Regions from separate parts of the Homo sapiens genome. Here region 1 is linked to region 2. The links come from fine-mapping of genetic effects on gene expression. A gene starts in region 2. The other region holds a variant in brackets. All regions are shown on one strand. Distances are from middle to middle. Region 1 overlaps MMP2-AS1 (MMP2 antisense RNA 1). Region 2 holds the start of MMP2-AS1 (MMP2 antisense RNA 1).

Region 1 (5,524 bases), 33 kb after region 2:
ATTTTTGTGGAGATGGGGTTTCACCATGTTAACCAGGATGGTCTTGATCTCCTGACCTCGTGATCTGCCCGCCTTGGCCTCCCAAAGTGCTGGGATTACAGACGTGAGCCACAGCGCCTGGCTCAACTAAATCTAAATTTCTTATTTCTTTTGATAAGTCAGGAAATCTGGAGACATTGGACAGGCTCCTCTTCCCAATTAGCCACACTCCCCACCATGCCCCAAGACTTCCCCAATACCAGGGGATGTGTTGTTATGTAATACCATGCTTGCACTGTTGCTTTTTTCTTATATAGAGGACCACAGTTGTATGGCTGTGGCTTTAACAGACATGGAAGCAAAATGAACCTAGAATTAGACTCATGTTTGGAGAAGAATGAGAAGGAACACATTTTTTGGTGGAAGTGACAATTATTCCTATGTGCTATCTTTAAGGTACAAAGGACTCCTTACTTCACTCATTTTCACATGCACTCTCTTTGCTGTAACTCCTGTGACCAAGTCCCCAGGCATTGAGACTCATCCCATAGAGAAGCAGTAGGGCACAGGGGTTAGGAGCATGGCCCTTCTGGGTTTTCTTTGGCTAAGTTAGCTTGGGTAAAGTTAGCAAGTTTTGTTGGGCTGGGGTTAAGCTCCTTAACTTCTCTTTCCTTCAGTGTCCTCATCTTCAAAAGGGGGTGATGATGATAATAACACCTATCTTGTAGGTGATTGTGAAGATGGAATGAAACAAGAAATGTAAAGAGTGAATGAAGCCGGGCACAGTGGCTCATGCCTATAATCCCAGCACTTTGGGAGGCTGAGGCAGGTGGATCACTTGAGGTCAGGAGTTTGAGACCAGCCTGGCCAACATGGCGAAACCCCATCTCTATTAAAAATACAAAAATTAGCCAGGCGTGGTGGTGCGCACCTGTAATCCCAGCTATTGGAAGGCTGAGACATGAGCATCACTTGAACCTGGGAGGCGGAGGTTGCATTGAGCCGAGATCTGGCCACTGTTCTCCAGCATGGGAGACAGAACGAGACTTCATTTAAAAAAAAAAAAGTGAATGATATTACCTGACACCTGGTAAGGAGGCAGAGGACAGGAGTATTTTTGTCATTATGGTGAGTGACAACATACCAACTCACTCATTAGTTAATTTATTTGGTAAGTGAAGATCGACTTAGTGACTAAGAAGGTTGATGCCTTTGAAAAGTGCCAAATCAAAAAATTTGAAGGTTTCTTGGTCCATGTCAGTGGTTCTCAATCCTGGAAGTGGATGGGAATAATCTTTGTTGCTCTCCCCAGATACTAGTCTGGGGACCCACCAAAGAGCAATTACACCAGACCCTCCAGGGACAGGATTTGTGGCCCCCAGAATGATGACAACTATGCCAGGTTACGGTCAGGATGGGAAACTCGTCTCAAGTCAGGTCAAGGTCATGCGCAGTCCTGAGACCAGGTGCCTCCTTACATTACACACCCTCAGTGCCTCATTTACCTGCCCTGGTCCCTGTCTTGCCTCAAACCACTAAAACAGAAACTCCATGAGGGCAGAGACTTTTTCCCTATTTTTCTTTCACTACTATCCCAGTGCCTGGAACAGCAGTGCACATATAATATGCTCTTGATAAATACTTATTGAGAGAATGAATAAATGGATACATGAATAGGCCCATCTTCCAAAGGTTCGGATTGCAGTCACCTCTTTGCTAGAGACTGCTGGATTTGCTCTACATAAACCAGAAGAGTGGAGTCCTAGACTTCAGATGCTCAGTGTTTCCAGAAGAGACCTTCAAGGTCAGCTGGGACAATTTCTTTTTTTTTTTTTCCAAACCATCTCTCATCATCATGATATTTTCCTTGTCTGCATCCCACTTGAGCTGTTATTTCCTTAATGGTGGCTTTACATCAATTCGTGCTTACTTAGAAACATCTGTCTGACAAAGAAACCCTAAAAAGATCAGTTCTGCCAAGGAAAAACTATCACTTGCCATACATAGAAAGGCAACTGTGAAATTAAGTACAAAGGAAATAAATCAAGTTATGAAATGGAGTTGGATGCTGATGCCTGCTGAGGATGTGAGCCTGGGCCTTCCCCTCTTATCATTATGAAGAGAGGGTTGAAAACATTGCAGAGGTGTTAAAGAGATGTTAGCATTGGATTGAGACTTTCTCTTAGAGGGAGTCAGAGGCTAGAAAGAGTCCAGAAGTGATACCTTTCTCTCTCTGAGTTAGTACTGTTTAATACCATGTCTTTGCATGTCACCCAAACCCATCCATGTGCTGCCCAACCATCAGTGGTATTCATCCCACTGGAGAAATCCATAGTTAGTCCCAGCTCCTTATTTTGTAAGACTTAGGTCCAAAGAGGCCCAAGTTCATATTCATTTATTCATTCATGCATTTGTTTGACATATATCAAACACCTCCTATATGCCTGGCACTGTGAACTAGACAGGCTAAGTCCCAGCTATTTTGGAGCTACCAACCCAGGGTCAGAGGAGGGGCTATACCTTTGGTCCCAGACCCCTAGTGCAGTGCTCCTTCTCTGCCCCTTCTCAGAAGGTGTTTTTGTAATCCCCATCTACACCCTACCCTCATGGGTGACTTGGGCACTTAGTGTTGCATTAACATCGTTTCCTTTTAATAAAGCAGCTACATTTTCACCCCATCCCGGGCTCCATGTTCCTGCTGCACACACATCAAGAATGCTGCTAATTTCAGCGTCTGCCTTCCAGACCCAGACGTCAAAACAACTACCTTTCATCTCAGGTTTGTAACACAGAAAACCTTCAATATTGGGAACAGATAACCTCGAAGGTGGGTTCATATCTCTCAGCACGATTGCTGTAACTTAACTCTGCTGCACCCGATCAAGGCTTTCTCTCTGCCTCATAGGTATTTTAATACAAATGTTCCTTTCATTTGGCTGATTGAAGGTCTCCAACCTGCAATAAATGAAACATCTGATCCCCTTGAATCCAAATAACTTTTTCTTTGATTTTCTTTTACTTCTATTTCTTCGTCCTTTGTTCTACAGCCC[G/A]AGTCAAATTTCCCTTTAGAAATTGAAAGAATGTGTGTGGGTTTTTCCTGCTTTTTTTTTTTTTTTAACCAAGCTCTAGTGCAACCGCTGGTTCATGGACTAGAATATTAAGATCCAATTCAATGGCAGACTGTCTCCAGCAATGTTGTATTTTTATTTTTTTTTGCCGTCATCCCCCCCACCCACTTGTGAGCAATGGTTGTACAAATTAGCCTCTGTGTACTAGTCACCGAAGCTGGCTTCCCAATTAACCCCAGGCTTGAGAGAAAATAAGACTAAAGATTCTTCCCCTCCTGAAAGAACTAAGTTATCCATGCACAAAAGCCTACATGTTGGCACCTGGCTATGGAGTTGGGCATTTAATTGCCTTTGTAATGACTCAGTCCATCTGCATGGTATTGGGTCCCCAGTTTCAGGTAATGGGCCAGAGGGGTCTTATTAGTCTCTGGAATGACCAGGCCATGTGTATTCATCACTTCGAAAGGCAAGCAGGGTCTGTGAGAAGCTGGTGAAGCTCTTTGTGTGTTCACATCTCTGATTGTGCCCTGTGTCCACACTTAGCCAGGACACCTACCCACTTAGTGGTCTTGGCTTTGTTTCTAGGGTGAGGGCTTGAGCTGTGGGTAACAGTGCTGATTATTACATGCTAGTAAGATTGTCTCCCTCTTTGAAGTGGTAGAAAGGTTTGTCCCTTCAGGGTGATTGGGTGAATATCAGAAAGCAACCACAGGAACATTTTGTTGTACTTTGCTAAGGTCTAAATATTTGTCTCCTCCCACCAAAAATTAGTGGTTGAAACCTCATCCCCAGTGTGATGAAATGAGGAGGTGAGGCCTTTGGGAGGTGACGAGGTCTTGAAGGCAGAGCCTTTATGGATGGGATTAGTACCCATATAAAAGAGACCTCAGGGAGCTTGTTCACCCCTTCTGTCATGTTGAGTACTCAGCAAGAAGATGCCATCTATGAGGAATGGACCCCCACCAGACACCCAATCTGCCAGTAACTTGATCTTGGACTTCCCAGCCTCCAGAACTGTGAGGAATCAGTTTCTGCTATTTATGAGTTACCCAGTCTATGGCATTTTGCTATGGCAGCCCAAATAGACTGAGACATACTCCTTAACCTTTGACCCACTTCTGTTTAGGCCCAGCCAGCCTTCCTGAGCCTGTGCATAGTCTTCCTGGCTCAAGGAACTCTCTCTACCGAGGTGTGATCTCCTAACTCCTGGCACTCATTTACCTATCCATGGTTGGTAGTCAGCCTCCAAGATGCCTGCAGTCATCCCTGCCTCCTGGGATTCATATCCTCCTCCACATTGTGCCAGGATTGGGCTCTGTGGCCAAAAAGAAAACAGCAGATGAGAGGACGTGTCTCTTCTCAGAAGGGTTAGAAAAGACTGTGGCTTCCATTTTAGATGACTTTCTCTCTCTCTCTCTCTCTCTCTCTCTCTCTCTCTCTCTCTCTCCTCTTTTCCTTCTTCTCTTCCTTGGATCTCTTGCTCTGAGGAAAGCAAACTACTATGTTGTGAGCAGCCCAATGGAGAGGCCCACAAGACAACGAACTGAAGCCTCCAGCAACAACCCTGTGAGGTCAGTTTGGAAGTGGATTTTCTAGCCCCAATTGAGCTTAAGATGACTTCAGCTTCAGCAGACAGCTTGACTGCAGCCTTTCTAGAGAGCAAGCACCACCCAGCTCTGCTGCTTCTAGACCCCTGACCTCAGAAATTGCACGAGATAACATGTTTGCTGTTTCAGGCTGCCAAATTTAGGGGTAAGCTGTTATGTAGCAATAAATACCAGCACACCATGTGAGCTCGTCTCTCGAGGGACTCTCTGAGGCTCCTGATGTTCCTGGTTGGCTCCCTCAATCTATGTGCTTGTTGTCCCTTAATATGTATTTTCAGTTCTTCCTTCATAAGAAACACCCTTAGCTTTTAAGTGGATCCTTGGCTGCCTGGAATAAACACTACATTGCCCCAGGTTTTTTGGCAGTTAAATGTGATCATGTGACTTAACCGTATTCTAGTCAATGGGCATATGTGGAAGTGGTGTGTGCAACTTCTGGAGAGCACCCTTACTAGGCGGATGCACCTTTCTTTCCACTTTCCTCCTTCCTGCAGGCTGGAACTGCCCATAAAGGCTGGCACCCCAGCAGCCACCTTGAGAAATGCAGTGATGATGCTGAGTGGCAAGGCAGAAGGCACAGGGTCCCTGCACCTGAGGATTGCTGCTCCAAACCTGGGCCACCAGCCTGAAGATCCCGCCAGGGAGAAATAAAGCTCTGTTTTGCTGAAGCCACTGCTATTTTGGGGGTCTCATCTCTTCCAGCTGATTCTAACCTGAAATTGAACCTTAATTCAATCTGGCTGATCCATGAACAACCATCACGCCTTGTGCTCTGTGTCAGATAGGTTTCTTAAGGGAGAATGTCACTTACTGACAGTGATTTGTCAACACCAAAGAGGAAAAAATATCAGAGAAAGGTAAGAGGGAGAA
Region 2 (5,000 bases):
TGTACTCACCCACGACCACACAGTGAGCCAGCAGCTATCTTCCCTCCTCGCTCTTGGCACGTGGGGGGCAGAAAGAAGGAGCATTTGTCATCAGGAGGCCTGGGTTCTCCTAGCTGCACTTTGCGAGCAAGAGCTCTGCAAAAGTGAGATGGTGTCACTGGGGTGGGACTTGTTGGCCCCTGGGTCATACGATGCTCTTGTTTGTCTGTCTGTCGATTACTGTAGCTATCTGGCTTGCCCATTCTTCATCCTGGTTGGGTCGAGGGTGGGGCTGGGCAGTGACCTGTCAATCAGAAATAAGGACATGGAAGTCTTCCAATCATAATAGCTTGCACTTGTTGACAGTGTTACAATATTGTTAGGCCCTGTTCTAAGTACTTTACATGTATTAGTTCATGTGATCCTTGCCACAGCCCCTGAGAATGCATTATTATTATGGTCATCTCTTTATGCATGAGGATACCAAGGCACAGAGAAGTTAAGAAACTCACTCAAGGTTACACAGAGAGTGAGTGTTGACCCAGGCAATCTGCTCTGGTGCCCACACTCTTAGGCTGGTGCCATCCAGTGCCCCCGGAGCAAGCAAGATTTGGCTTCTGCACCCTCAATGACATCAGTATTTTCTCTGGGCATCCTCGGCCAAAGCACCGTCCCTCTGGGGCTCTCTGTCTCTATATGTTTATTTGCCTGGTAAATGCTTATTAAGCCCTGTGCTGAGTGCTGGATATATAGCAGCAATTAACCGCAGTCATTGCTCTTGTGGCGTTTGCATTCCAGTGGGGAGACAGGCAATACAGAGCAAACAGACTCATACACAAGGTAATTTTAGATGGCTAGGAGACCTGGGAGGGATGAGGTCAAGATTATCTGATGAGGGCAACTTGAGAATGGGTCGTCAGGGAGGGCCTCTTGGAGGCCCTTGTTAGGTGTGAGTCCTGAAGGAGGAAAATGAAGCAGTCACATGCAGAACAAGGGGAAGAGTGTTCCAGGTAGAGCAGATGGCAAGTGCAAAGGCCCTGGGGTGGGAACAAGCTTTTTTGTATTTGAAGAACAGAAGAAGGCCACTGTGGCTGGAGCAGAGCGACAGGCACAATGAGCTTTTGTGGGTTTGGTTGGCGAGCATGTGTCCCCATCTCCTTGGGAGTTGTCCCTCCTCCCCACTGAGGACAGTGTTTCTGGGAAGGTGGATTGGGTTACTGTCCTGCCCTCTTCAGAAGCCAAGACAGTTCTAAGCCTTCCTCCTACTACCCTGCCAGGGTGGGGCTGTAATCTAGGCTGAGCCAATGGGACACTCATATGGTTTTTTTTTTTTTTTTTTTTTTTTGAGACAGAGTTTCACTCTTGTCACCCAGGCTGGAGTGCAATGGCATGACCTCGACTCACTGCAACCTCTGCCTCCTGGGTTGAAGCAATTAGCTTGCCTCAGCCTCCTGAGTAGCTGGGATTACAGATGCCCACCACCAGGCTTGGCAAATTTTTATATTTTTGGTAGAGACAGGGTTTCACCATGTTGGCCAGGCTGGTCTCGAACTCCTGACCTCAGGTGATCCACCTGAAAGTGCTGGGATGACAGACGTGAGCCACCGTGCCCGGCCCACTCATATGACCTCGCGTGACATAGATACAGATGGAACAATGGCAGCCCAGGCACAGCAACTGCGGGACCCTGAGGCCTGGTGTTCCCACCTTGATGTCTGCTCCAGTTGCCTGGCTCCCTTATCCTATTCTAACAAATCCCCCTTCGCTTATGTTGCCAGAGTTTACTTCTGTGGCCTACACCCAAATGACCCTACTGATGCAGTGGAGGAATGAAGGCAGATGAAGTTGGGCCCAGATGCGCTAGGCCTGGTTGGCCAAGCCAAGGAATTGGGTTGTGTTCCAAGGAAAATGAGGTCCCTGGGGATTTTTCTGGCACTGCCCTTCTGAGATGCTGTGATTCTGTGTGGGTGGCTTCCCACCTATGGGCATGACCTTAATCCACCAGCCCCTGTCCAGAAGCTCTCCCCTGCCCACCCAGGCCCAGGTCCCCACCACACTCTACCGCTAATGCACAATTGCCCTCCGCAGGCACCCAGGCAAGGTGAGCTTGGGATTACTTGTGTATTTCCCATGCACCCCCAATAAGGTCTCTCTATGGCTCAGATAAACATCTCTAAGATTTTATCCCTACCATACACTCCACCAAATGAAGAGTAAAACGAGAAGGGAGGAGAAATAGACAATCAGAACGTTCATCTTATATGTTGTGGAGCCCAGGAAGGGGACTGAGGAGGGGTCAGGGAGCCAAGGTTCAGCCAGTGCCCCAAGTGCCTCCTGCCCTTGAATTCCGAAGCATCAGGAATCAGTCACGGTAACAACAGCCAGCTGGTGACCCCAATCCCTCTGCACAGCAACAAGCCTTGGCTCTTGTTTTTCTAAGAATCCAGTCAATCCTCTTTCCTGTAAGTTGCAACCCAGTCCTCCCCCCAGGCCGGGCTGAGGACACAGCTTGTCTTCCCGATGGTGTCACCTAGAACTCTGGTTCCCCTGCTCCCTTTCTCTTCAAATAGGAAAATTGGCACAGCTTGACTTTCTTCCACTGCCCTCCCAGCCACAGCTTAGACACCTACAAACTCCCACCGCAGGCTGGAGTGCCCTGGAGCCCTAACTGTGATACCCAGGTCAGTTTCCAAATCTGTACCTTTCTGCGTCTCCTGTTCCAACTCTCAGTGAACTCAGCTGGTTCCTGCCCTTCCTCCCCAATGACCAGCCCTGAGGAATTGACAGCTAGGCCACAGCCGCCTCTTCCTCCAGCTTGACCCTAATTGGAATAAGTACCTCTATCATGGAATCCCAGAGGGACTTACGGTGGGGTTGTAGGCAGTGAGCCATGATTGCACTACTGCTCTCCAGCCTGGGCAACAGAGTGAGACCTTCCAAGAGAGAAAGAGAGAAAGAGGGAAAGAGAGAGAGAGAGAACAGAAACAGGAAAAGAAAGAAAGAAAGAAAGAAAGAAAGAAAGAAAGAAAGAAAGAAAGAAAGAAACCATTTAACATTTAAAGTTTACATTTAACAAGGGCTTACAATATGCCAGGTGTTTTACAAGTATTCATTAATTGATTCAAAAGACATTTATTGAGGGGTGTAAAATGATTATCTCTATTTTATAGATGAAGAAACTGAGGCACACAGAGGTGAAATAGCTTGCACAAATGTTGCTTAGCTGGTAAGTAGATTAGTCATGGCAAAGCTAAGCTAGGCAGCCTGCCTTCTTTTTTTTTTTTTTTTTTTCCGTGATGGAGTCTTGCTTTGTCATCCAGTCTGGAGTGCAGTGGCGTGATCTCGGCTCACTGCAACCTCCACCTCCCAGGTTCAAGCGATTCTCCTGCCTCAGTCTCCCAAGTAACTGGGATTACAGGCATGCGCATTTTTTTTTTTTTTGTATTTTTAGCAGAGACAGGGTTTTGCCATGTTGGCCAGGCTGGTCTCAAACTCCTGACCTTGTGATCCACCCACCTCAGCCTCCCAAAGTGCTGGGATTACAGGTGTGAGCCACCATGCCCAGCCCTTATAGTCTTAATAACTGAAAGACAACAGCTTCTAGAAGGATTTTGTAGCTCTCAGCATTGCCTGCCATGTCTGCACTGGGCAAGGCCTTTCCCGGGCAATTTCCTTTCCCATGACAGAAAATGGGTGGTGACCACTCTATCCTGATGTTGTGTGGTCAGCTATCTGGCTGTGGGTGCAAAAAGGATGCACTGAGACCAGGTTTTGAAGGCATTTACAGACACATGGAGCTCTTGGAAGGCTCCTCAGCTTGTCCTCTGGAGTGGTTCTCAGAGGTGGATGATGCCGCAGAAGCAGAAATGCTGCAGGTTCTCGCTTGGAACCTTCCATCCAGTCCAGGCCTGGAGGAGCAGCCATCCAGGCAGGAATTGCAGGAAAGGCTACAATCCGTAGAGAGATCTGAAAATGAGTCTATCTTAGTGAGGCAGCAGTTGGGAGCAAGAAACAGAAGCCCCCTTAGACTAACTAAGGAGAAGGGAGTCGGAGTATGATTACAAGAACCCTAGGAGGCCAGCGGCGGGGCTTGAAAATCACGGGCTCAGGCTGCACTCAGCTCTTTCTCCCTGCGGTCTCTGTTCCCCAAGCTCCCCTCTCTGCAGCCACCCTGGGCAGCTCACTCTCCCTATCCCCTGACCCCTCACAGTGGCTCCGTGTGATCTCTCGGTCCACTCAGCTGTCCTTCCAGGTCCCTGTGGAGAATCCCTGAGATAGGAACATAGAAGGTGTGGGGGCCAGAGGGGGTGCAGAAGGTGAGGCACCATTTCATCCGTAACAGCCATGACCAGAAATGCTAGTAAATGCTTTTTGAGGCTTGTTTCATCGTGAGATTTTGCTTCAGAGGCCATTTGGGCGTTTTTCAGCCCTGGCCTCTTTGGCTGCCGGAAATAAGATCCCACTCTAGCAAAGGGAGGTCCTTTTTTCTTCTTTTACAATTCCACATCTTTCCAAGGGTGATATTCAGTAAGCCCACCTCAGATGGCATCTGAGAGTGTTAGATTTTGCTCATCTGATGCTGAGGATGGTGTCTGAAACACAGTCAGTGCTGAGTAGTTGTTGTGAGCAGGAGCGGTTGGCTTCCTGCATATCCCAATGAAATCAGCCCGGGGGCTGCAGGGTGCTTTTCGGAGGGGCCATTCCCCAGGAGAGTGAGGATTGTGGGGATCCCAGTCAGTCCTGTCTCTCTGAATTCAGCCAGCTGCTTTCCTGAGCTCCCAAACAAGGCCGTTTTTTCAGCATCTATTACATTGGTGCAAAAGTAAATGTGGTTTTACTCAATGGTAAAACCACAATTACCTTTGCACCAACCTAATAGGGTTCCAAGACCTTGGGTGTCACAGGCCCAGGCAAATGAAGCTGAGGGCCAGGGGTGAGAGGAGATGGCTGGATTGGAGACTGGTGCATGAACTGGGCATAAGCACTGCAGGAGGGAAGCTGGGTGGGGCCTGGGAGAGCTG

Evidence for each region. PIP is the estimated chance that this variant, and not a neighbour inherited with it, causes the effect.
Region 1: its variant is fine-mapped to the expression of MMP2-AS1 in whole blood (INTERVAL, PIP above 0.99).

Annotation. Positions count from the first base shown.
Region 1 is chr16:55,426,595-55,432,118 of GRCh38, reverse strand. It overlaps MMP2-AS1 (MMP2 antisense RNA 1), which reads left to right. Exons shown (of 7, transcript NR_147198.1): 5 at 2,639-2,758; 6 at 4,535-4,618; 7 at 5,149-5,322. Among named protein-coding and RNA genes, the nearest start is that of MMP2-AS1, 33 kb to the left of the region's middle. The variant G/A (reference allele first, on the strand shown) is at 3,030.
Region 2 is chr16:55,459,835-55,464,834 of GRCh38, reverse strand. It overlaps MMP2-AS1 (MMP2 antisense RNA 1), which reads left to right and starts at 2,538. Exons shown (of 7, transcript NR_147198.1): 1 at 2,538-2,660.